Linked DNA regions of Homo sapiens. The protein of the gene in region 2 purifies or fractionates together with the protein of the main gene of each other region. This does not show direct contact. Each region holds a gene or a part of one and is shown on either strand. Other genes may lie near its edges. The genes, in order: PI4K2A, TSPAN3, UGCG and NDFIP1.

Region 1 (7,785 bases), on a different chromosome or scaffold from region 2:
AACAAACTCAGAAGTTATTGTAATAATGCAACTAACACATCCTGGAAGTTTCATGTAGCATCAGTGGAGATGAAAGAAAGGGGGTAAATATGAGACATATTTCATAGGGATATTTAATAAGAATCAACATAGTGTTAAGAGCATGGAAACAGTCTGCCTGGATTTGGATCCGGCTCTGCCATTTACCAGCTGAATGACCATGGGCACATTACCTTTACCTCCCTGGGTCTGGGTTTCCAACATCACAGGATACTATAAAGCTGGTTCCATGAGTTAATCCATGTAATGCATTTAAAACAATGTCTAGGCCGGGTGTGGTGGCTCATGCCTGTAATCCCAGCACTTTGGGAGGCCGAGGTGGGCGGATCATGAGGTCAACAGATCGAGACCATCCTGGCCAACATGGTGAAACCCCGTCTCTACTGAAAAATACAAAAATTAGCCGGATGTGGTGGCCCGCGCCTGTAGTCCCAGCTACTCAGGAGGCTGAGGCAGGAGAATCGCTTGAACCCGGGAGGCGGAGGTTGCGGTGAGCTGAGATTGCACAACTGCACTCCAGCCTGAGTGACAGAGCCGGCTAATTTTTGTATTTTTAGTAGAGACAGGGTTTCACCATCTTGACCAGGCTGGTCTCGAACTCCTGACCTCGTGATCCACCCGCTTCGGCCTCCCAAAGTGCTGGGATTACAGGCGTGAGCCACTGTGCCTGGCCAAAAAATTTTTTTAGATAAAATAAAAGACTCTGAGGGGTTTCTGTGGAGAAAAAACTCAGAATTCCAGGGAGAACTCTAAATCTGGGACCTTTCCTTTACCATAATTTGAAGCTTATGGGCTAAATGAGATGAATGATACCAAAAGATTATCTATGTGGCTACAGACCCTGGGCCACAAGAGCCAGGCATCAGTTGATTATTGAGGTCTAGATAGGAAAAGGAAGTGCATGTATTATAACTGAAAGGGGCAATTTAACCTTCTGTACGACTTTTGTTTAGAATGGTTTGTCTGGCCAAAAATGTTTAAGACATTCCCATACATATAATTAAACAATAGTGCTTTCAATTTGGTATTTCTAGTTAGCAGTGGCAATAATTTGATTCAAGAAAGAATGATTATGAAATATTGGTGACTATGTGACTGGCCATGATTCGTGAAAGCCCATACCTCTAGTCTGCTGGTGACTTTAAGCATAAAAACAAAAACAACATCAACAGTAACATCAGCAGTGATTTTTTTTCAAAAAGCTACCATATGTTGAGTGCTCTTTATGTACAAAACACTATGCTAAGTGCTTTATTTTTATTTTTCCTATTAGAGAGTCATGCTTCATATGCTAAGTGCTTTACATAACATTATATTGATTCTTGATTCAGTAATCATGGGGATGATTATTCCCATTTTATAGATTAAGGAACTGAGGCTTAGAGAGGTTATATAACTTGTCTAAAACAACTGATCATCATGGAGACTGGATTCAAACTCAAATGTCTCTGATTTCCAAGCCCATGCTTCCAACCATTACATTTTACACTTTTTTTTTGAAACGGAGTCTGGCCCTGTTGCCTAGGCTGGAGTGCAATGGCACGATCTCAGCTCACTGCAACCTCCACCTCCCAGGTTCAAGCGACTCGCCTGCCCCAGCCTCCGTAGTACCTGGGATTACAGGCGCCTGCCACCATGCCTGGCTAATTTTTTGTAGTAGAGACGAGGTTTCACCATGTTGGACAGGCTGGTCTCAAACTCCTGACCTTGTGATCCACCCGCCTTGGTCTCCCCTAGGATTACAGGTGTGAGCCACCAAGCCTGGATGTACATTCTACACTTTTGAAGGTAGTGTTTGCATACATTTTTTTTTGAGACGGATTCTTGTTCTGTCGCCTAGGCTGGAGTGCAGGGGTACGATCTCAGCTCACTGCAACCTCCACCTCCCAGGTTCAAGCGATTCTCACACCTCAGCCTCCCAAATAGCTGGGATCATAGGCGTGTGCCACCAAGCCCAGCTAATTTTTTTTTTTTTTTTGTATTTTTAGTAGAGACAGGGTTTCGCCATGTTGGCCAGGCTGGTCTTGAACTCCTGACCTCAGGTGATCCACCCGCCTCAGCCTCCCAGAGTGCTAGGATTATAGGCGTGAGCCATCGTACCTGGCTTGTTTGTATAAATTTTAACTGAAACAGTATTCCATGAATTTATTATTATTATTATTTTTTCAGATGGAGTTTCGCTCTTGTTGTTCCAGGCTGGAGTGCAGTGGCACAATCTCTGCTCACTGCAACCTCCTTCTCCCAGGTTCAAGCAATTCTCCTGCCTCAGCCTCCCAAGTAGCTGGGATTACAGGCATGTGCCACCAAGCCCGGCTAATTTTTGTATTTTTAGTAGAGACGGGGTTTCACCATGTTGCCCAGGCTGGTCTCGTTCTGTTCTACTTTCCAGGCCCTTGGTAACCCAGTTTAACTCTGCTTCCCCTCGAATCAAGAAGGTTGCTCTCTGTTCCCTATATGCCCTAGCCTTCCTCTTTTACTCAGGTAACTCCTGCTTGGTGTAACATTTTTTTCCTGTCTCCTTTTTTTCCAGCAATCTAATTACTCTTTCTTTAAGACTCAGCTCATAGCACATGACCCACTTAAAGCCTTTGCTTGATCCTTGAGCATTCTGGTTGAAAAAAAAAATTAGAAAAAAAATAAAGCCTTTGCTGAGCCTGCAGCCTGCCTCAGTTAATTGGTGAACTGTTACGGAGTTTTGAGCTCATTTTGCTTTTTTTTCTCCTACTGCCTCAGAAAGCCACATGCCTTCAGCTTGAGGGCAGGGACTCTATCTTCCTTCCCTTTCTCATGAATAATAATGTACTGAGCACCTACTGTGTCTAGACACTGAGATTTAACAGTGTGAGTAAAAGCAATGGACTCTTACCTCGTGGTAAGAACTTCTTAGGCTCATGGGACCATATTTTTCTTCAATTAACAAATAAGCATTGAGCAGCTGGGCCAGGCACAGTGTAAGATATTAATTGGCTATGTATTATTCTTTGTATCACAAGTTTGTATCTTCACAGGAACTTGAAGATAATGGGTGAGGCAGCGAGTCAGGAATAAAATGTCTTAACAATTGCCCCTGGGTTTTCCTAGGAACTCCTTAAAAAAATTAATTTTTAAAAAATAGATGGAGTCTTGCTATGTTGCCCAGGCTGGCCTTGAATTCCTATAAGGTTGAGAAGGAAAGATAGCTTAGAGCAGTCTGAGCTCTGTGTGATGTATGCACAGTCTATTGGCTCAAAGACATGAGTATGGGACTTCAGTCATGCCTTCCACACCCACACTCTGGGGCAATGGTTTCTTTCTTTCTTTCTTTCCTTTCTTTCCTTCCCTTTCTTTTCTTTATTTCTTCCTGCCCCTCTCCCTCTCCCTTTCTTTCTTTCTCTTTCTCTCTTTTTCTTTCTTTCTTGACAGAGTTTCTCACTGCAACCTCTGCCTCCTGGGTTCAAGCGATTCTCCTGCCTCAGCTTCCCGAGTAGCTGAGATTATAGGCATGTGCCACCATGCCCGGCTAATTTTGTATTTTTAGTAGAGACAGGGTTTCTTCATGTTGGTCAGGCTGGTCTTGAACTCCCGACCTCAGGTGATCCGCCTGCCTCAGCCTCCCAAAGTGCTGGGATTACAGGCGTGAGCCACTGTGCCTGGCGGGTTTTTTTCTTTTAAAAATTTTTTATTTTTTGGCTGCACTGTGGGTGGTTCACACCTGTAATCCCCCAGCACTCTGGGAGACTGAGGGAGGAGGATCGCCTGAGGCCAGGAGTTCAAGACCAGCCCAGGCAACATAGAGATAACCTAACTCTAAAAAAATAATAATAATATTTTAAAAAGAAATCTTCAGGGCTTCCTAGGAAAACCTGGAGGCAATTGTTAAGACATTTTATCCTGACTGGCTACTTCACCCATTACCTTCAAGTTCCTGCGAACTTGAAGTGTAACCTGACATTGTTACATCTACATTGGAAGTATGTTAGGTCAACTGAGATACGAATTTGGGATACAAAGTACAATGTATAGCCAATCTATAACTTGTTATTTTAATGTAAATTCTTGGTAAACAAGTTAGGAACTGCCTCTTTTCCTTTAAAAACCTACTTCCAGGCCAAGCGCAGTGGCTCACACCTGTAATCCCAGCACTTTGGGAGGTCGAGGTGGGCAGATCACTTGACCTCTGTCGTTTTTTTTTTGGAGACTGATCACTCTGTCTCAAAAAAAAAAAAAAAACAAACCCAAAAAACAAACCCCCCGCCCCAAAAAAAACGTTTCATCGAGGTAGAGCAGCAGCTTTGTTTCTTTGCTTCACTGCTGTCTCCCTAGCACTTAGAACATAGTACGTGCTCAATAAATGAATGAGTGCCTGACTGAATGAATGAGGATACATAGATGAGATTCCTCCAATCTCACAGCCGGTTCAGAGTAGGCACTCAATGAGTGACTGACAGGATAGTTGCTGTTTTGAAAGCGCCCAAGTCCAGTAAGCCAATTGGAAGCTAAGCGTGGCGCTGGTATAGTAGGGGCAGGGGGCGTGCCTGACCCAAGGTTGGGTCCTGGAGCATGCGCAGTCTTCACAGAAGGTGACGGGGAGAAAAATGCGGAGGCAGCGATTGCGTAGGAGCAGGTTCTGATTGGCTACTGTTCGCGCGCGAGGGGCCGTGCCTATTCGTAGCCAAGTAAACAGGGCAGGTTAGAGGCGGGGCCAAGGAGGCGTCGCGACCTGGTTGGCCGGCCGGGGCCTGGGGGATGTCACGGATTGGTCGCGGCCGCGAGCGCAGTGGTGTGGAGCGCGCCGGGTCCCGGAGCCGGCTGTCTGAGGGATGGACGAGACGAGCCCACTAGTGTCCCCCGAGCGGGCCCAACCCCCGGACTACACCTTCCCGTCGGGCTCGGGCGCTCACTTTCCGCAGGTGCCCGGGGGCGCGGTCCGAGTGGCGGCGGCGGCCGGCTCGGGCCCCTCTCCGCCGGGCTCGCCGGGCCACGACCGCGAGCGGCAGCCACTGTTGGATCGGGCCCGGGGCGCGGCGGCCCAGGGCCAGACCCAAACCGTGGCGGCGCAGGCCCAGGCTCTGGCCGCTCAGGCCGCGGCGGCAGCCCACGCCGCTCAGGCCCACCGCGAGCGGAACGAGTTCCCGGAGGATCCTGAGTTCGAGGCGGTGGTGCGGCAGGCCGAGCTGGCCATCGAGCGCTGCATCTTTCCCGAGCGCATCTACCAGGGCTCCAGCGGAAGCTACTTCGTCAAGGACCCTCAGGGGGTGAGTGCGGGGGTGGGGACCGCCGCCGCGGGCTGAGGGCCGGCGGCGCTCCTGGGGAGTTGGGGGCTTCGCACAGCCAGAGGGAAAAGGGAGAAACTTCACAGTACCAGCCCCTGGCAGGATTTAGGGATGCCACTGAGGACTGGAGCTGGGGACGCTCTGCGGAATGGAGAAATAAATCAGAACCTACTTGGTGGGGGAGGAGTGAGCGGAAAATGAAAAGAGGAAATTGACCAGATACGGGCCGGGGGCTCAGCGGTGTGGTGGGGCAATCCGCCGCTGGACAGAGACTGCTTTCTAGTAGGGTACTTAGCTTCACACTACTGGGACAGCTATTCGGCCGCCGACTTGCAGATTTGGGGCTTTAGGCCTGTTCTCTCTTTTTGGACCGACCGAACCAGTGTGTCGCTGTTCACGGAGGAGGATGGGTGACCTATCAGGGGATCTGAGAATTCAGTTCCAGCCTTCTATGTTGTGGGGGATGTCCCCTGCCACCGTCCCAGCTCTTATTAACAGACGTTGAAGAAAGAATGGGCGGACTCACCAGTTTCATCTGCCCTGGGTATTGCTCACTTCTGGGAAAGGGTTCAAATACTTTTTGACGACTCCAAAGTTTAGATAGAACTTGGAGTTTTAGAAACATGGGGCCATCAGCTACTTTTTCTTTCATTTCTCTCCCAGGGCTATCAACAGCCTGCTTTTCAACTAAGGCAGAGCGTTTGCCGACCTTTATTTTGTCCCCTGCCTGTATATAAAGGGGGATGGTTATAGGATGGGGCATGGAGTGACCAGGGTATCTGAGAAGTGACCTTTATCCTTTTGAGAACTGCAGAATTTAAGAAATACCAAGTCTTCCCTGTTTTCAGGGAAGTTTCAGGGAAATTTTCAGGTGTGCTGCAATGGGTCATTGGAAAGATGTATTGTTATTTAAATTATGGGTGTCAAAGTTTCCTCAGATTTTCCCTGACATCTCTCCTGTGTGAACTCTTTAGATGGCCAGGGTGCTGTTTTAATAGGAGTCCTGAGTGGCCAGGACGGGCTGTTACTTGTAGCTCTTGGTTCGGCTCATTGAATGATCTAGTTATTCACTCAGAGTTTGAGTCGTCCCTGAATTAATCAAGAATTAGAGAACAATTCTGCCATGAACTCAGTTTCTCAGTTTACATAAACTGAGTTGGGGAAAGCTTTGCGAGTAATAAGTCTTTCGAAGTTTCTTTTTCTTTTTTTTTTTCTTTTTTTTTTGAGACAGAGTCTTGCTCTGTCGCCAGGCTGGAGTGCAGTGGCGCGATCTCAGCTCACTGCAGCCTCCGCCTCCCAGGTTCAAGCAATTATCCTGCCTCAGCCTCCTGAGTGGCTGGGACTACAGGCGTGCACCACCACACCCAGCTAATTTTTGTATTTTTAGTAGAGACCATGTTGGCCAGGATGGTCTCGATCTCTTGACCTTGTGATCTGCCCACCTCGGCCTCCCAAAGCGCTGGGATTACAGGCGTGCCACCGCGCCCGGCCTCCAAGTTTCTTAAATAAAAGAGCTTGCAAGCTCAAGTGGGAACCATCATTTCTAGAAGCAAAGAAATGTGAGTGCCCTGAGGTTTAAATGTCAGCCAGAGGCTTGCTTGCTTTCTCTTTCTTCCTTCCTTCCTTCCTTCCTTCCTTCCTTCCTTCCTTCCTTCCTTTCTTTCTTTCTTTTTCTTTCTTTCTTTCTTTCTTCCTTCCTTCCTTCCTTCCTTCCTTCCTTCCTTCCTTCCTTTCTTTCCTTTCTTTCTTTCTCTTTCTTTCTTTTTCTTTCTTTCTTTCATTCATTCTCTCTTTCTCGTCTTTCTTTCTTTCAGAGAAGGTCTCACTCTGACACCCAGGCTGGAGTGCAGTGGTGCAGTCTCACTGCTCACTGCAGCCTTGACATCCAGGGCTCAAGGTCCTCCCACTCAGCTTCCGAGTAGCTGGGACTACAGGCACGCACCACCACACCCGGCTAAAAATTATTTTTCATGGAGACAAGAGTCTCGCCATGTTGCCCTGGTTGGTCTCAGACTCCTGGCTTCAAGCAGTCATCCTCTTGCCTCAGCCTCCCAAAGTGCTGGGATTACAGGTGTGACCCACCATGCCTGTCCTTTTTTTGTGGGCAGAGGGTATTTTTAGTTTGTTGGCAAATGTAAGAAGGGGCTAAGATTATCTTTGATAGGTACAGGAGAAGGAGGAATATTTTTGTTTTTCTTTCATGACACTGTTAGAGCTGCATTGGAAGTGGGTTAGGTCAGCTGAGAAGTGAGCTGGTGCTTTGACAGATGGAAGTAATACGATCTCTTAATTCTACCTGGCAGGTAAAGTACTACCATCTCAGTACATAGGCCACAGAGAAGGACAGACCATAGGTATGTTACTTGGTGATTTAGGGATTCCAGTCTCTAAAATTTCCTGGCCACTATCCTTTCTCATAGGGGAAGTCCAAACACAGATGCCCTGACAAAACTTTTTGACGTACTCATACTGCTTCCAGTGAAGAAAATGTGAT
Region 2 (7,025 bases):
GCACAAATGTGAAATATCTTAAAGAGATTTCATTCTTATATGAGATTGCTTTTTCCATAGCTTAGAAACTAGTTTTTGGGGGGGTAATTTTCAAATATTCTATGAAAGAGACAAGTAGATAAAATGTTAAAATCTGGGCCAGGCGCAGTAGCTCACACCAGTAATCCCAGCACTTTGGGAGGCCAAGGCCGGCAGATCATCTGAGGTCATGAATTCGAGACCGGCCTGACCAACATGCAGAAACCCCGTCTCTACTAAAAATACAAAATTAGCCGGGCGTGGTGGCACATGCCTGTAATCCCAGCTACTCAGAAACGCTGAGGCAGGAGAATCGCTTGAACCTGGAAGGCAGAGGTTGCAGTGAGCCGAGATTGCGCCACTGCACTCCAGCCTGGGCAACAAGAGCAAAACTCAGTCTCAAAAAATTAAAAAAAAAAAAGTTAAAATCTGTAAAACTATTAAATTCCTTTTCATCAACCACGGTGTAACCTGCCATTGGAATGTGGCAATATTAAAAATGAAACAGATTTGCTACAAGTGGGGAGATAAAGTAGCTCTGTTGCCAAAAGTATACCTACATGGAGATTTAGAAATACAAAGGCGAAAGCATCCCACAGGACATTTTGGGCGAAGCTGAAGCAAAGAATAGAAGTGATTTTCTTGCAGTGGTATGTAGTAGCCATTGATGATGATTCCCATCTAGAACTGGCAAGAATCAAAACAATGTAAAGACAAGGCACCATCTGGACTTTATTCACCTAAAAGCACAGTGCCTGACAAATTCTTGCTTGCCTGTGTGAACTGCTCCCTTCGGAGTGATTTTTGCCAAAGAATCAATTAGTAAAGTAGAAGTGACTGGAGTGTTGAGAGAAAGGAAAAAAGTCAAGAAGTAAAAGACTGAGCAAAAAATGCTGTACTCTAGACTTTGTAAGAAAGCAGGTTTTAAAAGCAGAGGGAAAAAATAGGCAGGAATCCATCTTATGCATATATCTTTTTAACATTAAATCCAGAGTTTCCTGTACTGTCATATTATTTTTCATATACCTCTTTTCTCTCCTGGGAAGAATCGTTGGTAATTCCACACAGTGGATTTCTGAAAGCTTCCCCAAACTTCACCCTTATGCCATTACAAGTGTCTTAAAATCATCTTAAATCGTTTAGCATTCTACTTGCCATAATGTATATTCTCTAATTCAACCATGCTTTCACCTCTGACTTAATCTGATAGAACAGTTTACGTCACTAAACACAACTACTTCTTATGTAAGTCCACTACCTGAATATATCATTTACTCTCCTACCAACTCTCAAGGAAAAAAGGCCATTCCAAAGACTCCAAATCCTCTTTCAGAAATTAAAGCTACTCTTACCAAGAATTTCTGAAGCTATTAAATACTATCATTTTCTACCTAACAAACTGATCAGCAATAAAGTTAAGGAGTATTCAAAGATGTGTGAGGGTGCAGAGAGAAGGGCCCTCAGATGGGCGGAAGCACAAACTAATAGAGAATCATTTTTTTGGAAACAATCTGGCAATACATATCTGCCTCAGCATTGATGCCTTTATACCTACTTATTCCACTTCCAGGAATCTATCCTTTAGAAAGTTAGTCAGAAACACAGATTTGTGTAAAAGGTAATTCATCGAGATGTTGTAATGAAATTGTGGCTGCAAAAATGAAAATGAAAAAGCCCTGGTATTCAGAGGTGTGTCTGCATTCAGCCCTGAAATATTTTCTTAAAGCATCATTTAATAATATGCTTGTGGTGTGATAGGGGAAAAAACACATATATCACATATTGGAAACAAACCAAAATGTTGATATTGGTTGTCTCTGGGTGGTAGAATTATGGGTGATACCAGTTTGCTTTTTAAAATACTTTTAGTGTCTTCTTTAAAATATATTACTTGCATAATTAGAATAATAGTTAAAATTATGTCTGAAATTGAGGCTTTAATGTTCTCTCACCAATGAATTCATTCCTGGATGTGTCCTTAACCAACCAAAAACAGACACCTCTTCCATCCTAAATATTTTAGGCACCTCTGCCAATCTCTCCCACTTACCACTTTTCTCAGGTCTGTGTGGCTTTGACTCATCCTGTACATGTTTTCTGATTATCTAACACAATTCTTTCAATGTACATTATGTTCCTTTTCTCATAAATATTACTTTTCAAGGAGACAAGTTTTTTTTAAAGTCCTACTTAAATTGGGGTGTAAAGTTTTATGTGTGTTTTTTTAACTCACCACTATACTAATGAGAAAATTCTATTTTTTTTTTTTAAGACAGGGTCTTGCTATGTTGCCCAGGCTGGCCTCAGACTCCTTCCCTCAGGGGATCCTCTCATCTCAGTCTTACTTGTAGCTAGGATTACAGGCATGTGCCACCAAGCCTGGCTAAGAGTTTAAAGTTCTGACAAGCCACTTTTGCCATCAACATCACTATTATTATTGCCATTATTCTTAAATTAGAAATATTTTAATCCTTTTTACTGCTATTACTCTGATGATATGCCAAAGGTCATGCTCCTCAATTCTGCCTTATTTTCACCTTTTCTCTATTTGGTTTTTCATAATCATTATTAAACCAGCTTAACAAAGTTGTTCTATTTAATCCAATATCTACTGGCTGAACAACTCAAAATTTCAGGTGGCAAAGAAACTGGAGATTAACCAATTGCCATTGCCAAATTATTGTAACAGCATGGAAACTGGCTGTTTCCAGACAGTAGGGCTCCAGAGGTTATCTGAGAAGCCTGAAATTTAAATATGCATTTTCTTTGAGACCCTCTGTTACCCCACCCTACTCTAATTGTAAAAAGAGTCCATTACAACATCATAGGAGCCTGAGGTGCTTAAGCTTTGTAATGCTAGAGTTCATCCACACTTGGGTTATGTGTTTAATCAGTAGCAACAACAATGTAAGTTACAAAATGTCAACATTTATTCTAGAACCCCTTTAGTAGATTACAAACTACACATAAATGCAGATAATTTTTCTTACCTATTAACTCTGCCTAACTACTAAAAGGAAGACAGTGAGGAGAAGGAAGAGGAAGAAGATATGTCAATATTTTTCAATAAAGACTTACTTGAGACCAGCCATGAGTAAGATTTCTGGGGGAAAGGTGCATGTAGAAATTTAATTCGATGAAAAGTCTACCCTCTCTCCCCATTAGCTGTCAGACTACAGGGACTGTGTTTACTCTATTTCTCAAAAAAAGGTCAAGGGTAGATATTCAACACACATTTACTCATGAATGATTCTTAGTACACCCGTCTGGTCTAAGTACAAACTTTATGGAATACATTTTCTGAAAAAAAAAATCAAACAAGCCTAACCTGAATTGGATCTTATGGAATAAAATTCATTAAATTATTTCAAAGCATGATAAATATCCTAGAAAGCTAATAACCCATTCCCTAAACTGCAACTAGAGAGAGCGCCCCTGCTGATTCCAAGTTCTAAATGATTACTCAGGGCCACAAGGCTCTTGGTCAGTGGACAGGTGACTAAGAATGTAGTAAGAGTGGAAACATTCATTTTCTTAACTGTTGAAGACAAACTAAGACAGACACTTCCTATTATGTACTTGCTTCCTGACAAGTTAGATTTTCTTCTAGTGAATTGAAAACAAGCATGAAAAAGCAAAGTTAGCTGAAGGTGTGTCCCATGACATATTCTTTGTCAGAGCAGTCATTCATGATAGGAGAAATACAGGAAGTAGAGAAACAAATTCCAGGATATCAGATGCAGGTTCCGGTTTAAAAGTATCATATTACCACCTCGAATGTGTAGGATGTGCTGGAAAACACAAAGTATGTACAAGATTTGTGACAAGGGAGAACCACACTTGAAATACCTCATTATAAAGTTTTATTTTTTAAACAAAAGCATGACGGTATAAACCTCTTAGTAATTTGAACATAGCAAGTATATTTTTGCCTTACAGCCTACAGCCTGTTCCTTCAGTTCTGAATCCCCCCAGTCTCCCAATCTCTTCCAAATCACCCAAGTCAGCAACTTCTTATACTCCAGATTTTTTTTGCCAACATAAAGCACGACCCAATCACTTTATCACATCACCCTTTAATTCTCTGCATAACACATCACTCTGATCATTTTTCTTGTTTATTTTTGTGTGTCTTGCTTCACCGGAAAGTAAGTTCTGTAAGAATAGGGATTTTTCACTGTCTTTTCATCATTTATCAACAATATAAGCACAAAGTAGGTGCTCAAATAGTAGTGTTATATTTAACAAAGCAAATTTTCCTTAATTATATACATTCACAGACATAAGCGTGATAAGTTTTATTTATTTATTTATTTTGAGATGGAGTCTCGCTCTGTCGCCCAGGCTGGAGTGCAGTGGCTCGATCGCCGCTCACTACAAGCTCCGCCTCCCGGGTTCACGCCATGCTCCTGCCTCAGCCTCCCGAGTAGCTGGGACTACAAGTGCCCACCACCACATCTGGCTAATTTTTTGTATTTTTAGTAGAGACGGGGTTTCACCGTGTTAGTCAGGAGGGTGATCTGCCACCCTTGGCGTCCCAAAGTGCTGGGATTACAGGCATGAGCCACCGCACCTGGCTGATAAGTTTTATTTTTAAAGGCAGGATAAGTTTTAAAGGTTACATATGGCTTTCAACTACAATTTATATGTGTGAAGTATTTCATATGAATGAATGATGGTTAGTGAAGGTGCCACGTTCCAAAGCTATTTCTAAAGGCATTTATTTAAAAGGCGTTTGACTTTTTTGCGGTACTTCCCCCACTCTACAGGTGTCTCAGTTTTATACTATCACCTCTCAGATGAAAAACAACAACCTAAATAGATATTTAAGATTATAAATTCTATAAGCATGGACAAAGCTTTCTGTTCCAGTCCCTGTAATGCCTAAGATAAATATGAGCAAAATAAGTATTAGCCAATTAGTTTTTCTAATAGGGTTTAAAAAAAAAGTAAAGGTAATTTGTATAACATAGGACTTGATTAAATAATCAATTAATTTACCGGAATAAAAACTTAATGGTAGGAAGTACTGATTTAAACTTGTTTTAGACGAGCCCTCTTTGGTCAGATTAAATGACTTACCAAACTAAAAATCCTGTCTGACCTTGGTACAAAGGTGCAGTTTACAGAATAGGCTAATGCCTATTTAATACAATAGCCTTTGCTGGGCGCGGTGGCTCACGCCTGTAATCCTAGCACTTTGGGAGACCAAGGCAGATGGATCAAGAGGTCAGGAGTTCGAGACCAGCCTGGCCAATATGGTGAAACCCTGTCTCTGTTAAAAAAATACGAAAATTAGCTGGGCATGGTGGCGCACGCCTGTAGTCCCAGCTACTCGGGAGGCTGAGGCAGGAAGATCGCTTGAACCCGGGAGACAGAGGCTGCAGTCAGCCAAGATCGCACCACTGCACTCCAGCCTGGGCGACAGAGTAAGACTTCGTCTCAAAAAAAAAAAAAAAAAAAAAAAAAAAAAGCCTTTAAAATTTAGTCATTTACCTAAAACACTTCTAACCTTCTTCAATAAATCCTCATGGGTCCAGCATGAATACACTTATATTTAAAGCCTCATCATTCCATAAAAACAGAGATCCAAGATGATCCAAGCTGTACATCCTTTCACTTGTCCAAGATTATCTTTCAAGCTACAAATCTTAATATTCTAGAATTTGGTGAGAAACTGTCTTAGTCTGTTTTCTGTTGCTTAGAACAGAATACCTGAAACTGGGTAATTTAAGAAATTTTTTTACATACATGGAGGCTGAGAAGTTCAAGGTCAAGGGGCCGTAGCTGGTCAGGGCCTTCTGCAAAGTCCTGAGGTGGCCCAGGACATCACACGTGGTGAGGGGGCTGAGTATGCTGGCTCACGTCTCTCTGCCTCTTCTTATAAAGCCACCAGTCCCATTCCCATGAAAACCCATTAATCCATTAATCCATGAATGGATTAATCCATTCATGAGGGTAGAGCCCTCATGACCCAATCACCTCTTAAAGGCCCCATCTCTCAATACGGCCACATTGGGGATTCAGTTTCAACATGAGTTTTATAAAGGACAAACATTCTAACCATAGCAGGAGTTCCCTATTTCCATTAAGACAAATTTCAGGATTTTAGAAATGATTGTTTCTGCTTTTGGTTTGTGCCTTTCCACAGTAACATTATTACAGCATTGTTCCAAACTATCTACACCAAATCAACAGTAACGATTTTAGCTGTCAGATAATTTACAGCCTGAGTATTTCAGGTATATATCTATCTCCATGTCACAGTTCAATGAACAAAATGCCAGCAGAATCAGGATATCAAGACATAAGAAAGTGTAGTTTAAAGGTCTTGCCAAAGCAATTAAACTTTGACCCTTGTTAACAATCAGCCATTACCATCTGACAGTGAAGAGCCAATGCAACATAGTTTTTATTGCCTACAGTTGCCCAAGGGAACCTAGGTAAACATTTGATAAGCTCTATGGAGAGTATGTTTATTCTTCCACTTATTCATCATCTCAAGGCATTAAAAGGAGGGAGGGGCCAGCATATAAGAATACATTTATTAGAACTGAAGAATGCATTACAAATTCCCAGGAAGAACCTTTTAACATTTTTTAATGTACTTCCTCATAATGACTTAATTCAAAACCAAACAAAGTGTCATGTAAATTCTGGTACAGTTTCTAATTTTAGCAATCTCAAAATCAGCATGCTTTAGAGAAGTGATTCTAACAACTTTCTTCTCTTTACAAATCTTCTGAAATCACACTTTGTCCTAACATCACAGTCTCTAGAGTATGGGACAACCTGGGTTTGAACGCAGGCTGTATCACACCTTGGGTGTGCTACTTTGGCTCAGTCAACCTTAATGTTCTCCTCTAAAATGTACCTAATATTCCCTGCTAGATGGGAAAGCTGTGAGGATATGCCATGTAAAGTGTTTAGCACAGTGCCTGGGGTATAGTAACTCAAATGTTAGTTGCCATTACCCATCATCATCAGATTCCCACAGTTAGTCCACA
Region 3 (7,025 bases), on a different chromosome or scaffold from region 2:
AGCAGTGAGAACGTTGGCCATTTGGTCACTTATCTATGAACTGGTGGCACTGGTATATCTTCCAGTGTCATTAATAGACATTTTTCTCATCATTGAGTTTTTTTCTTACTTTCAGTTTCCTTCTGTTCTACCCCTGCCATTCTGACCTTATTAATATTGGGAGTTCCAGTTGTCCCATTATCTTGCTTGCCATGCAGACTGCTTGACACTTCTTTTAACTGTGTATTATCCCACTGCAAAGAAATTTCTCAGAAAGTTCTGGTTATCCTTTCATAATTTTCTGCTGCAGACGGTGTTTTATTTTACCTGTTTTTATAGTTCTGTGGCCACTTCAGTGGCAATTTAAGAGGAAGAGGAGTTAATCTTTGGGCTAACACTGCCATTCATTTCTTCACCATGTATTTTATTGAAATGCCTGCGCTATGCCTGGCATAGTTCTGTGAGTATAGCAATAGTCAGAGAGTAGTACATCATGGGTATTCAATCTTTTGGCTTCCCTTGGTCGTATTGGAAGAAGAAGAATTGTCTTGGGTCACATATAAAATACACTAACAATAGCTGATGAGCTTTAAAAAATCGCAAAAAATCTCATAATGTTTTAAGAAAGTTTATGAATTTGTGTTGGACCGCATTCAAAGCCATGCTTACCTGGTTCTACTTCCCTTCATGTTTAGATCCTCTTTTAGAAAGATGTCAAGTTTTAAAAATCTTAACTTAGAATTTAGGGATTTATTGATAGCTTGTCAGTGCTTTGATTTGACACTAATGTATTCTATAGAAATAATTTTTATATCATTTGCTTTTTAGCCGATTACACCTCAACAAGAAGGCAACTGACAAACAGCCTTATAGCAAGCTCCCAGGTGTCTCTCTTCTGAAACCACTGAAAGGGGTAGATCCTAACTTAATCAACAACCTGGAAACATTCTTTGAATTGGATTATCCCAAAGTAAGTTCAGTGTTACGGTTTTTTGTTTTGTTTTGTTTTGTTTTGTTCCCCTCATGATAAACATTTAGGGATTTTAACACTGTATAAGGTGAAGGTATTAAAAATTCATGATGATATTGGCCTCATAAAATATAACCTTTAGTAGTAGTCATCACAGAACAGAAATAGGTTGAGGAAGGGGTGTAAATTCCCTTTCTAACCACCTATATGTCCGTGTGAAGTAGAGATCCCTGAGTAAACCTTCTGAAACTCAGACATTGTCAAGTGCCTGGTAGTTTGAAAATAAAAATTTTCTTCCATAAGAGCTGGATATGAACAATAGGAAGAGGAGACAAGGAGAGGGAGAAAGCAGTGTTAGTGGTCTGAAATGGGTTGCAGTACAGCCAGAACTAAACGTGACTTCTCCGGAGAAACTGGCTTTGAGCCAAGAATAGATTACAGTTAGTGGTACTGTAGGGTTTCATCTTACCTCATTTTTAATTTCCTTACTGTTCTGATTTTAATAGCTAATTGTATTGCTTATACCATTTATCTATATAATCTGTATATCTGTAAACTCAGTGTACTCCCTTAATTGGAGACCTTCCAGTTTTCTTGAGATGAAAGTATTCTTTTTATCACTTTGCTTTAGTAGTCCACCTGTAGTTTCTTAGGATAACTTAATATTCTTTGATTTTTGTACTTAGCTTTACAGCAGCTTTGTATTAAATTGCTTGAGACTGCTTTTGAAAGGGCATTTTGGTGGTAACAGATCACTTGTGAGAAGAATGTGTCTTTAAGCTTCTACCCACTTGACTTTCAGTACAGTTTAGTTTTCCCTTTGCGGTCTCTATTCACTTGCCTCAATTTTTACCCTATTGCCTCAGTTTTTCCATAGCTGTTTTTGCTACTGGGAGAGTCGTCCCTCTTAATTTTTTTGGACAGGGTAGCTCAAATAATCAGAAGGAAGATGATATGCGCACTACACTTCTTATGGTGACTGGTTTTCATGCTCTTATTTCTTTTCTTTTAGCCTTTATTTTTCTCGGTAGCACCAATGAAAAGAATAGAGAAGACACAGATGTGATAGCCTTAATGCAGCACTTATTAAGTAGGTAGACATGAGTATCATTCAGTTGTATTTTTAGTGTTTTTATATTATTGCTTTGGAGTTTTGGAGTTTAGAAGCCAATTTTGGAGTATTGGAAGCTGTTTTGAAGCAAAAAAATTATATGTTCTAGTTTGTGTGTGTTTATATGCTTAATAATTTTAGATATTTGAATTAAATACATGTGTTAACTTCAATCAAATATATAATTTTTAAATAAGATATAATTGTATATACTTGTTTTTTCAAACTAAAAAATGGTAAAACTTAGCCTTTTGTAATTGAGAAAGATATAAATAAAATTAATTGTAAAATAAGCTTTGCAGTAAGAAAAATGGGAGATTTTCAAGCTCCATAAAAGTAAATGCAAAGGAGAATTAATGTTTACGAATGAAAGAAATTTTCTATTGATTATGAATGAATCTTAGAGCATAGCTTAGAGTCATATGCATTATCATTGTGAAACTTAATCTCACATTTCAGTTTTTTAACCATCCTCTTTCACTTTCCCCATTCAACCACTCTTAAAATTGGTCATGGAATTTTTACGTTGTAGTGCTTGTGAGATGATAGTCATGGGGTTTAAATGCTTGAGGAAGTCAGTGAGGGGTTTAGTTGTAGAAAGAATGGTTTTTTGTGTTCGTTTTTGTTTTTAAGACAGTATCTTGCTTTGTCACCTAGGCTGGAGCATAGTGGCACAGTCGTGGCTCACTGCAGCCTCAGCCTCCCAGGCTCAACCAGTCCTCCCACCTCACCCTCCCTGGTAGCTGGGACTATGGGCATGTGCTACCACACCTGGCTGATTTTTGTATTTTTTGTAGAGGGTGTTGCCATGTTGCCGGGGCTGGTCTTGAACTCTTGGGCTCAAGCAATCCCCCCACCTCAGCCTCCCAAAGTGCTGGGATTACAGACATGAGCCACCATGCCCTACTGAAAGAATTTTAAAAAGTAACCCCAGGGTTATATGTATCCATTGATTACGAGCATTTCTAATGACCCCATAACTGATTTCTTGTGAATGAAGATTTTGGCCAGGCGTGGTGGCTTGTGCTTGTAATCCTAGCACTTTGGGAGGCTGAGGCGGGAGGATTGCTTGAGGCCAGGTGTTCAAGACCAGCCTGGGCAACACAGTGAGACCCCCACCTTCAAAAAAATAAAAATTAAAAAATTGAAATAAAAAATTGTTTTGGAAATTACAGTTTAGAATGATCTCAAGAGCTCTTGTTTTCACTTAGAGTAGTAGCTCTTTTTCCATTTAGTTATATCATTTAAGTGGGTTGAGGAGAAAGCTATTTTGACATTCATTGTAAGATGAAGAATAGCATCTGCAGATTATTTTATTCTTTGTTAGTACAGAATTTTATTTTCTAATTATAAACTTATATTTAGCTGTATAAATAGAAAGTTTGGAAAGCAGAGGAGAAGTGCAAAGTACCTGCAATCTAAGGGAAATATTTGATTTCACAGCATTTTATTTACTTGGTGAAAACCAAATACAATGGCAAATGTTCCACAGGAGACTAAAGTTAAACCACTGAAATCACGCATATCTGAGCATGAACAGACAAGGCATTTGTGTCACCAAGAAGTCAAGGAGACCCAAAATAAACATTTACGTGACTGCCAGGCGCAGTGCCCTTTCATATTTGCATTTTGCCTGGTGTGAACATCGTTTTACCAGAGTATGGAAATGTTTTCATTTTGGACATAACTTTCTCTTCTAATATTCGATTGGGACTATCATAGGCCATTTGGGGGAAAATAATAAAACATATCTTCAAGTTTTAAAATTTTACTTAATTTTGGACATGTGCAAGAAAATTTACTGCTACTGGTACTTGCTCTGAATTTCTAGGTTTCAATTTTGGTGAGACTAGACTAGTTGCTCTGAAAGATCTCTGCGCTGTATTCATCTTACAAGTCTACTTTTATACTGATACTCATTCCTTGGGAAGACATAAAAGAATGAAAAGGTGATGCAGTTCATTTTCCACAGCATTGAACACTCATTTGTCACCAGCGTAGAAGGGATTTGGGGAGAGATTAAGCAGTAGCAGTAATAGTCAATAATCTGCGTCTAAAGTGGCTTGCTGGCTTTACTTCAGTAAATTCTGGCCATGTGAAGAATACCTAAATCAACTATCAGAGTTCTTAACAGTGAACCTGTCATAACTATGATTTTTTTTTCTTTTTTGCAATTATAGAATTGATTTTTTTTTTCCTTTTGAGGCAGAGTCTTGCTCTGTCACCTGTGCTGGAGTACAATGCCACAATCTCGGCTCACTGCCACTTCCGCCTCCCGGGTTCAAGCAATTCTCCCGTGTCAGCCTCCCGAGAAGTTGGGATTACAGGCGCATGCCACTACCGCTGGCTAATTTTTATATTTTTAGTAGAGAGAGGATTTCATCATGTTGGCCAGGCTGGTCTTGAACTCCTGACCTCAGTTGATTCCCCTGCCTCCGCCTCTTAAAGTGCTGGGATTGCAGGTGTGAGCCACCGTGCCTGGCCTGATTTAACAATTTTAATACAGGGATTCTTAGCAAATAAAATATCTCATCAAATTGTGAAGACACAGAGCTGATAGCTGAAAAATGATTCCTGGTTAAAATCTGATACTTTAGAAAATACTTGGAATGCTGCCTCCAATTTGGTGTAATTTCCAATATCAAAAACAAATGAATCTTATGTATTTGAGTCTGAACTTTTTTTTGGATAATATGAATATGAGTCTCATTTACACTCTGGCTAATCAGAAAGTATTTGTTTTTAATTAAAAATTATGTTTAAGCAGTGTAATCAATAAAAATTAAAACTTCAAGGCCGGGGGCGGTGGCTCACGCCTGTAATCCCAGCACTTTGGGAGGCCGAGGCGGGCGGATCACGAGGTCAGGAGATCGAGACCACGGTGAAACCCCGTCTCTACTAAAAATACAAAAAAAAAATTAGCTGGGCGCAGTGGCGGGTGCCTGTAGTCCCAGCTACTCGGGAGGCTGAGGCAGGAGAATGGCGTGAACCTGGAAGGCGGAGCTTGCAGTGAGCGGAGATCGCGCCACAGCACTCCCGCCTGGGCGACAGAACGAGACTCCGTCTCAAAAAAAAAAAACAAAAAACAAAAAAACAAAAAAAAACACTTCAAACCTTGCATCTGAATAAAGGCAGACTGTACCTCCCTTACTTATAACCTCCCTACTTAACACTAGTATAGCATTTTTCTTCCCATTGAGTATATTTCTAGTACTATATTTTTACAAAGTTTTCTCTTGCTGGGGAAAATAAAAGCTAAGATTAGTTTTTTATTGTACTTTATGGAATTGCATTACTTATAAACATTTCCTTTCATCATATGTACTCATACTCACAAAATAGCATTAAAAAAGCATTAAAGGCTGGGCATAGTGGCTCATGCCTGTAATACCAGTACTTTGGAAGGCTGAGGTGGGCAGATCACTTGAGCCCAAGCATTCAAGACCAGCTCGTCGTCTGTACTAAAAATACAAAAATTAGCCAGGTGTGGTGGTGCACACCTATAGTCCCAGCTACTCGGGAGGCTGAGGTGGGAGGATTGCTTGAGCCTGGGAAGTTGAGGCTATAGTGAGCCAAGATCACGCCACTGCACTCCAGCCTGGGTGACAGTGAAAGACCCTGTCTCAAAAAAAACCATTAAAGATACTATGCTGGCTGGGCACAGTGGCTCACACCTGTAATCCCAGCACTCTGGGAGGCCGAGGCAGGCAGATCACGAGGTCAGGAGATTGAGACCATCCTGGCTAGCACAGTGAAACTCCGTCTCTACTAAAGAAAAATACAAAAAATTAGCCGGGCGTGGTGGCGGATGCCTGTAGTCCCAGCTACTCGGGAGGCTGAGGCAGGAGAATGGCGTGAACCCTGGAGGCCAAGCTTGCAGTGAGCTGAGATAGCGCCACTGCACTCCAGCCTGGGTGACAGAGCGAGACTCCATCTCAAAAAAAAAAAAAAAAAAGAAACTATGCTATGTTTGGAAAAACAAGGAACTCTTTAGAGCAAGCCTGGCTGAGCAGCCTCCTATAGTAGGAAAGCTCGTTGTTACTTTTGCCGTTTGAAAAGTCACTTAACCTCTCTAATCATTATTGTGAAGGTCATTGCCTTTTTGGTGGCTCAGCCAAATATTGTTTTGAGAGTCTGGATGGGAGGCTGACTGACACTTTCTGTGACTTAGAGTCAGCTCTTAAGGAAATCTCAGGAGGGTGGTAGAAGTAGGGCCCTTTCCATTTTCAGATTTTTATCTGGTCTCTGGAGACCAGGTAACTGTCAAGTTGGTTTCAGTACCTCTTGAGTGGCAATTTTCGTCAGTCATCATTAGAGGTAGATATTGGATAGAATATATAATAACAGCAGTATGTAGGTAGAAAGTATGAGGAAAATATACATTGTTTTCCTCATCGACTTAATTATTAAGAAAACATGTTTTTCATTTGACAAAAAATCTTATTAGCTAACCTTCTTCATTAACCTTAGTCTTGGTTCTTTTGTGATCAACTGCAAATTTCTTTTATTTTTATTTTCCCCGAGACGGAGTTTCACTCTTGTTGCCCAGGCTGGAGTACAGTGGCGCAATCTCGGCTCACTGCGACCTCCCTCTGCCTCCCAGGTTCAGGCGATTCTCCTGCCTCAGCTTCCCAAGTAGCTGTGATTACAGGTGTGTGCCACCATGCCTGCTAATTATTGCATTTTTAGTAGAGACGGGGTTTCACCATGTTGGTCAGGCTGGCCTCGAACTCCTGACCTCAGGTGATCCACCTGCCCTGGCCTCCAAAGTGCTGGGATTACAGGCTTGAGCCACCACGCCTGGCCCACAAATTTTTTTATTGGCAGTTTTTGCTGAGATTATAGGTAGTGGGCAAACAATTGTTATTATGCTCACAGGCACTATAAACATTTTATTTCTACTTTTTACTTGTGTATGCTTATCATTGGAAGTAAATATAACAGACTTTGTCGTTCTCTTGAGTT
Region 4 (7,025 bases), on a different chromosome or scaffold from region 2:
TGTTTGAGTTAACGTGATTTAGGACCCTTCTATTTTGTTCTGCAAGATAATTTACATAGTTCTCTCTGCTATATGTGTCCACATCTATTCAGATTGTTACAGATCTTTTCATTCTGGAACTTAGAACATTATAGGCCATACAAACTTCCAAACTCCATTGTTGCTATAATCTGATTCGAAATGGAAAAAAAAAAATCTTCAAAGAAACTTCCATAAAACTCCCTTCTCTATTATCAAATATAACTTCTGAAAAAGAACACACTACACTATTATTCATAATAATCCATAAACTGGTTAGAGGGATCATTGAAATGTCAATCCAGGAGGCTCCTAATTTTCCTGTTTGGCTTTCAAACAACCCACACTTCTGTGCATTATATACTGATATCCTGAACGACTTCCTATGCTGATTCTGGATATACATACACAGCAGATGAATGGACATTTGCAGCTATCAGACTGTGCTGGTGCTGATTTGTGTAGTAATTTGACCATCTTGGTGTATTTTTTCTTCATATTTCTTAAATAGAAAATGAAAAAAATCAAATGGCTGATATCATAAAAACAACTGGTCTCTAAATTTAAGATTGAGACAAGAATAGAAATCAGGAGAAATGAGGAATCTTTAATTTCAACTGACTGAATGCTCACAGGACTCAAACCAGTTGGTGCATTCAACTGAGAAAAAGAACAAATGAGAACATGCAGAAAACACTGGAAATAAATTATCTAAAATTATGTCTAAAAATTGAAGCATAATTAGGAATTCCAGAATGATTTAAGATCTCTACAACTCCTCTCTACTTTTTTAGTCCATTATCTTTTACAGAACCAATGTTCAAATACATTTTTAGGAATGTATTTAGTAGGATATAAGAGGACTTCTTGTGCTGAAAATGAAGAAAAAAATTGACCCAACATTAGTTTTTTAATCGCATCTACTGAATGATTCCCTAAGATTAGAAAAAATTGCCTTAGCAATCAACAAATGCAAGCCAAGAAATTAAGCACTAATCTACAGTAAAAGGTGCTACACAAGAGATATTTATTAATGTTCTGTTGTATTTACAGTTTTAACATAGCAAACCAAGATGAATTACCACTTGGGCAGAAAGCACATCATTCTACATTATAACCCACTGGTTTCTGCTAACACATTGTAAAAGCAAGTAGTACAGTATGTTAGGGATCATCTCAAAAGTTCCAAGCTACTTCTTTCTTTGCTCCTAAGTACCTAATCCTCTCCTTACTCCCAGACTTTGGCCTAATCACCAGGAGACAAAAGGAAAATAAGGGGGGTGGGGGTGGGGGTGGGGGTGAAGAACGCTAATTATAGAAAGAGTGTCAAGAATTACATTTTAGTAATTAAGCTTCATTTGTATCCTAGTGCTTTCTGTTTTATACAGTGACAACACCTTTAGAATCCCTTAGGTACAATAAGGTACCGCAGAATTGTGAATACAGGCTATAAAAAATTAATGCTTATTATTTACCAATTAAAGACTTATTTTTGACCACACCTTAAATGTATTTTTGCACTATGATTTTGCTTCCAGGTGTTCATACAGAATTGAATAAATTTCTAGATTAACTTGAACAGCAAATATGGATTATGTGCAAAAACACAGTCATAGCAAAAGTTTAACTTTTGAGAAAACCCCTTTAAAATGGCCAGCATTATACATATCTTACAATATTTAATTCCAAGTTCATTTTGAGATGGAGGATGAATAAAGCAAGACTGCCCCCTACCGACTACAGGGACATGGCTCATGCTACTTAAAATGACTACAAACAATATATAAGGCATTATTAATACATCACAGACTTGATTGCAAGAGCTTTTTCAAACATTAACCACTAATGATTCAATGATTACAGAATTCTGCATTAACTATTAAAATTTTACACCTAGGAACAAATAGAGAGAAATGATCTTTTCAACAGTACTTTATTTTTTTAAAGCAGGTGATTATTCCTCTGTGTTCTGCATCTTGATTCACTTCCTGCAGGTGTTCTCTTGCTTCTTGAGAGAGAATTCATAAATGCAGGAAGGCCTTTGCCAGAAAACATCTGCCAGAGAAGGATATTGAATATTGAAACTCTAGTTAGCTTGTTATTTTGGCTAAGAGAAGGATGTAGTCACAAAAGAAGGCAGGATGTTTGGAGACACAAGTGCATTTTAACATAGTTTTAAGATTACTGTATACTGACATCACGGTATTCAATAAACATTAAAATTTCAGTTCTTAAAGTTATCAAGGCCTCTAGAACTAGAAAAAACTGGAATGCTTTTTCTAAAAACTCCTGAAGTCAGGAGTCTCTCTTTCCAAACCTCTTAACAAAAGAATACAATGGAAGCAGTGCTACTGCGCATCCCACACTGAACGCTGTCAGCAATGACTGAAACTTGGGACAGAGAGCATAATCCAAGTGCACAAGTAATTTTCCTAATATACCTGAAGATACTGTTTACCCTAACAATTCCACTAGATATTGCACAAGGAAGCTTTCCAGTAAGGATGCCAACCATGTCATGCTATACCTCAACCGAGCATGGCAAAATTAGAAAACAAGGATAAACTCACAGGTACCACAAATACTTTTAAAAAACAAGTTTTCCTAAAAAGTCATTGTATTTGGGGCATGTTTCTCTTAAAATAATACATGTACTTTCAAACTAAATTTTAAGAAAGGAATATATCTGACTGAAATAAATGCTCTCGAAATAATGCCTACGCATTTTACTAAATGCAGTTTTCATCTAATACTTTGAGGCATTTCTGTACTAGTATATTGTTTTGGTTCTCATGAAAATAACTTGGGAAAAACTACAAGTAATTCCCTATATTAACAATAAAAGAAGAACTATTAAGAATAAAAGAAGAAACACTAAAGAGATACATTTACTGCTTAATAAACATTTATTGAGAAACTATTTTGTGGTACTCAGCAAGAAGTGAGAGTTGGATGGGCTCAAATATCGGCCTATAACTTACTTTTCTATCCTCCAAATTACTATAAAAGCCACAAGAAACTCTTCTATGTCTTTTCTTTCTTTTCTTTTCTTTTTTTTTTTTTTGGAGACAAGAGTCTGTCACTCAGGCTGGAGTGCAGTGGCGCGAGCTCGGCTCACTGCAACCTACACCTCCAGGGCTCAAGCCAACCTTCTGCCTCAGCCCCGCAAGTGACTGGCACTAACAGGCGTGCACCACTATGCCCGGTGTCTTCTGTATCTTTTCTGATTAGATTACTGCGTAAGTATTTAAAAGGCTGCCAAAATGGAGAGAGACTACAAACACACTGGAGGAAATGAACATATTTTAATATTATCAACATTTTTCCAAACTATAAATTCATTTGTGTTGTGATTTGAAGTAAACCACTGAAACTGATACAAGGACATCTTTTCTTTAGATTGAGAGACATAAGAGATTGAAAGACCTCGGAAAGCACAGAGACAGAGACACAAAAATATGAGGAACTCTAAAAGCCAAGCAGAAGCAAAAAAGAAAATTGGCAGATGAATATTAAATGAATGTTTTTGCAATGAGGCCAGACTCATTATAAACATAAATAATTTGTTTTATCAGTTTCTATATATTTTTTTTTTTTTTTTTTTTGAGACGGAGTCCCGCTCTATCACCCAGGCTGGAGTGCAGTGGCACAATTTCGGCTCACTGCAAGCTCCGCCCCCCGGGTTCATGCTGTTCTCCTGCCTCAGCCTCCCGAGTAGCTGGGACTACAGGCGCCCGCCACCACACCCAGCTGATTTTTTGTATTTTTAGTAGAGACGGGGTTTCACTGTGTTAGCCAGGATGGTCTTGATCTCCTGACCTCGTGATCTGCCCGCCTTGGCTTCCCAAAGTGCTGGGATTACAGGCGTGAGCCACCATGCCTGGCCCAGTTTCTTTTAATAGATGAAAACTGATGAAACAGTGACTAGTAGGTCAAAACAGAGTTTGCAAGAATATACAATATGGTACGGACAATTACCTGGCCACTTCCTTAGTTTATGATGCTTTAGCATAGGTAAACAGCTTTAATAGATCCCTCAAAGTCAAAGCCTGACACCCAACAAACATTAAAAATCCCTTTGCTTGTTCAGTAAGAGAAGTAAAAATTAAATTAAAATAAAATATCTCAAGAGGACCTAGAGAGGTCACCAGTGGGTAATCTCAATCACCACACAATCTCCAAATGAAAGACTGCTAGAGGGCACTGCTGTCTGAGACTTGGAGGCTTGAGTGGCAGTGTTACAGAAATGCTGGCAGTACACAAACTGAAGAACAAACAGATCTTAGGGACTCTGGACCGTATTACTAAATTATAGATCAGATCACTTTGTAAAAAAAAAAAAAAAAAAAAAGGAATCCAATAGCCTACAGATCATTTAATTCCAAGAGGAAGACAACCAGTTCTTCTTGGAGACATGTAAATTTTGTTTAGCAAAAATTCTACTGGAAACACCATTTCCCTATTATCTTGCTATCTTATAACATAGTCCAATAAGTAAACCTTTACCTTGAGATGAATTTCCTTTAATAAAATAAAAGAAGTATTAAGGAACAGGAGAAAAATTACAGAAAAGGAGAAATGAAAGTGTCTGTTATCACATGGAAAAAAATTAAAATATTTGATGCCTAATAGGTACAGCTCACTAGGTCACTTTTTTAATTATGAAGGCCCTAGCTCATTAATGCTAGGGCTCAAAAACCTCCTTTTTTCCTTCTATTTCAGATGCAGTTAAAATAAATAATTTTAAAATATATTATGCTTCATATGTACAAGTGCTTTTGGTACCACACAAATAGTGTTAGATATAACCAATCAACTGTGTTACCACCTTATTACTGTAGCTAACTCCTCATTCACCTGGCAGCATCAGAGGAGGTGGTAATCCATAAAAATGTATTTTCCAGTGAACTGGTAAATAAGAAAAGTATAAACACTTTACATTTTTTACCATTTCAGGTACAGATGTTTATAACAGGTATCTGTTTCTTCTGCTTCCTCAGTCACATACTTTTTTTTTTTTTTTTTTTTTTTTTTTGAGACAGAGTCTCGCTCTGTCGCCCAGGCTGGAGTGCAGTGGTGTGATCTTGGCTCACTGCAACCTCCACCTCCTGGGTTCAAGCGATTCTTCTGCCTCAGCCTCCCAAGTAGCTGGGATTACAGGTGCACACCACCACACCCAGATAATTTTTGTATCTTTAGTAGAGACGGGGTTTTGTCATGTTGCCCAGGCTGGTCTCAAACTTCTAACCTCAGGTGACCTGCCCACCTCGGCCTCCCAAAGTGCTGGGATTACAGGCGTGAGCCACTGCGCCCGGCCCAGTCACATACTTCTTGATGGCCACTGTGCACACCTTTAGCAGTTCCTTCTGGCATTTTGTTATGAAGTAGGAAAACAGATAACAGCTTATTAATACATTTTTCCCTCCCTTAAGCTTAAATGGACTCTGAAAAGGAACCTGAGAGCTGCCCCTATGATAGTAGTACATGAGCTTTAATGTTTAGCTTTTGTAATATCTACTTTGACTGATTAGAAGGAGGTGTTTTGGGATCACTTCAAGATTGGTTTATTTGTACTATATTTCAGGTAGCCTGACTAGAAAAGTCACTATTCTTATGCCCTTTTCTAGTAAAATGCCAAATCTTAGTACAATATGGAAAGTATATTATTTTTCTGTTTTGGTAAAGTTATTTTAAAAATTCTGTATCTGTATCTTTCTGGCAAAGTTATTTTAAAAATTCCCTACCTGTGTCTTTCTTCAGCTACCTTTTAATTGGTGACATCTCCATCAAAGAAGTAGAAGTCCATAAAAGAAAATAAAGCTTTTGGGAACACTGACCCCATTTTCTAAAGTTTGTGTTCTCTGATTGGCCATTCCCAGCTTTCTACTTGCATAAACTCTGTATTCTGATCCTTTTGATGGCTTCAGGTTGACAATGTCAAGAGAGGCAATTTAGCAGAGTAGTCACTAGTTTACCAGTGATTTTCCTCAGCAGGAGTTAGCCTAGGATTTTTAAACTACATTTTCCCTCTCCCCTATCCCTATCTCCCTAGAAGAATCACTGTACATGACAGTTAGAAATAAGATCAAATTTATCCTTTAGTAATTTGACTGCCTGCTAGGCAAAAACTCAACAACCTTCTGACAAAATTCAGAGCTCATAATCTCTACAACATGATAATTAACAATGCTGCAACAAAGAAATAACTGGCCAGGTGTGTAAAAACAGGAAAATGTAACCCAGAGTCAAGAGAAAAATCCATCAATACAAATAGACTTATCTAACCTGATGTTGGAATTAGCAGATAATTACTTTTTAAAAACTGTGATAAGCATAATAAAGAATCGATAGGGAGGAAAAAAATAAAGCTTTCTTACTTCACATGACGGTTTTCTAGTATGTCTTCTAACAAAATTAAACTAAATGTCCTCTGAACTAGAGAAAGAAGGGATTCTACATCTGGATCTGGACAGAGTTCTTACCCTTTCAGTGGACAAAGGGAACTCAGTCCCATAGGATATTATGGCTTTTCAGGTTCCCTCTGGGGATCCCTGGAAAATTAGTGAAGTCATTAGAATTCTAAATTCTGCTGTAAGTTCCTCAAACCCTTAATTTAGAGCTCTGAATTCTCTGGGTGTGTCAGGAATGATTTCAAATAAACCAGGGTATCACAGTTAAATAGAAAAGCAAATAAACTCTATTATGCCCTCCAATGGTGTGCATTCATTTACCTCTGAGAAAGTTTCTGACAACTCTTAACGTACACTCCTGAAGCACCAGCAGGCTCAACACTTGAATCTCCCTTAGTACTTCCTACAACATTATTATTACTAAGGACTGCCTACTTCAAATCACAACCCCACATACATAGTTTTAAATTTAGAATATCAAAAAACATTTCAGAAATTTTAGAAAATCCAAACAATAACAACAAAATTTTCAGTAAAGCACCAAACAACACAGGAAAACTGAGACGTTCAGGCTTTCTGTCAACTGGGCTGCTATTT

What was found.
Region 1: the proteins of TSPAN3 (region 2) and PI4K2A purify together in Homo sapiens (affinity purification with mass spectrometry; 3 studies listed by BioGRID and IntAct, with this or other methods). This does not show direct contact.
Region 3: the proteins of TSPAN3 (region 2) and UGCG purify together in Homo sapiens (affinity purification with mass spectrometry; 3 studies listed by BioGRID and IntAct, with this or other methods). This does not show direct contact.
Region 4: the proteins of TSPAN3 (region 2) and NDFIP1 purify together in Homo sapiens (affinity purification with mass spectrometry; 3 studies listed by BioGRID and IntAct, with this or other methods). This does not show direct contact.

Annotation. Positions count from the first base shown.
Region 1 is NC_000010.11:97,635,905-97,643,689, forward strand, and holds the start of PI4K2A (phosphatidylinositol 4-kinase type 2-alpha), read left to right. Parts: upstream 1-4,766; 5' UTR 4,767-4,838; coding exon 4,839-5,273; intron 5,274-7,785. UniProt on the Homo sapiens protein: Membrane-bound phosphatidylinositol-4 kinase (PI4-kinase) that catalyzes the phosphorylation of phosphatidylinositol (PI) to phosphatidylinositol 4-phosphate (PI4P), a lipid that plays important roles in endocytosis, Golgi function, protein sorting and membrane trafficking and is required for prolonged survival of neurons.
Region 2 is NC_000015.10:77,061,110-77,068,134, forward strand, and holds part of TSPAN3 (tetraspanin-3), read right to left. Parts: intron 1-7,025. UniProt on the Homo sapiens protein: Regulates the proliferation and migration of oligodendrocytes, a process essential for normal myelination and repair.
Region 3 is NC_000009.12:111,913,798-111,920,822, forward strand, and holds part of UGCG (ceramide glucosyltransferase), read left to right. Parts: intron 1-807; coding exon 808-949; intron 950-1,961; exon of another isoform or gene 1,962-2,039; intron 2,040-7,025. UniProt on the Homo sapiens protein: Participates in the initial step of the glucosylceramide-based glycosphingolipid/GSL synthetic pathway at the cytosolic surface of the Golgi.
Region 4 is NC_000005.10:142,146,779-142,153,803, reverse strand, and holds part of NDFIP1 (NEDD4 family-interacting protein 1), read right to left. Parts: intron 2,074-7,025; 3' UTR 1-2,073. UniProt on the Homo sapiens protein: Activates HECT domain-containing E3 ubiquitin-protein ligases, including NEDD4 and ITCH, and consequently modulates the stability of their targets. As a result, controls many cellular processes.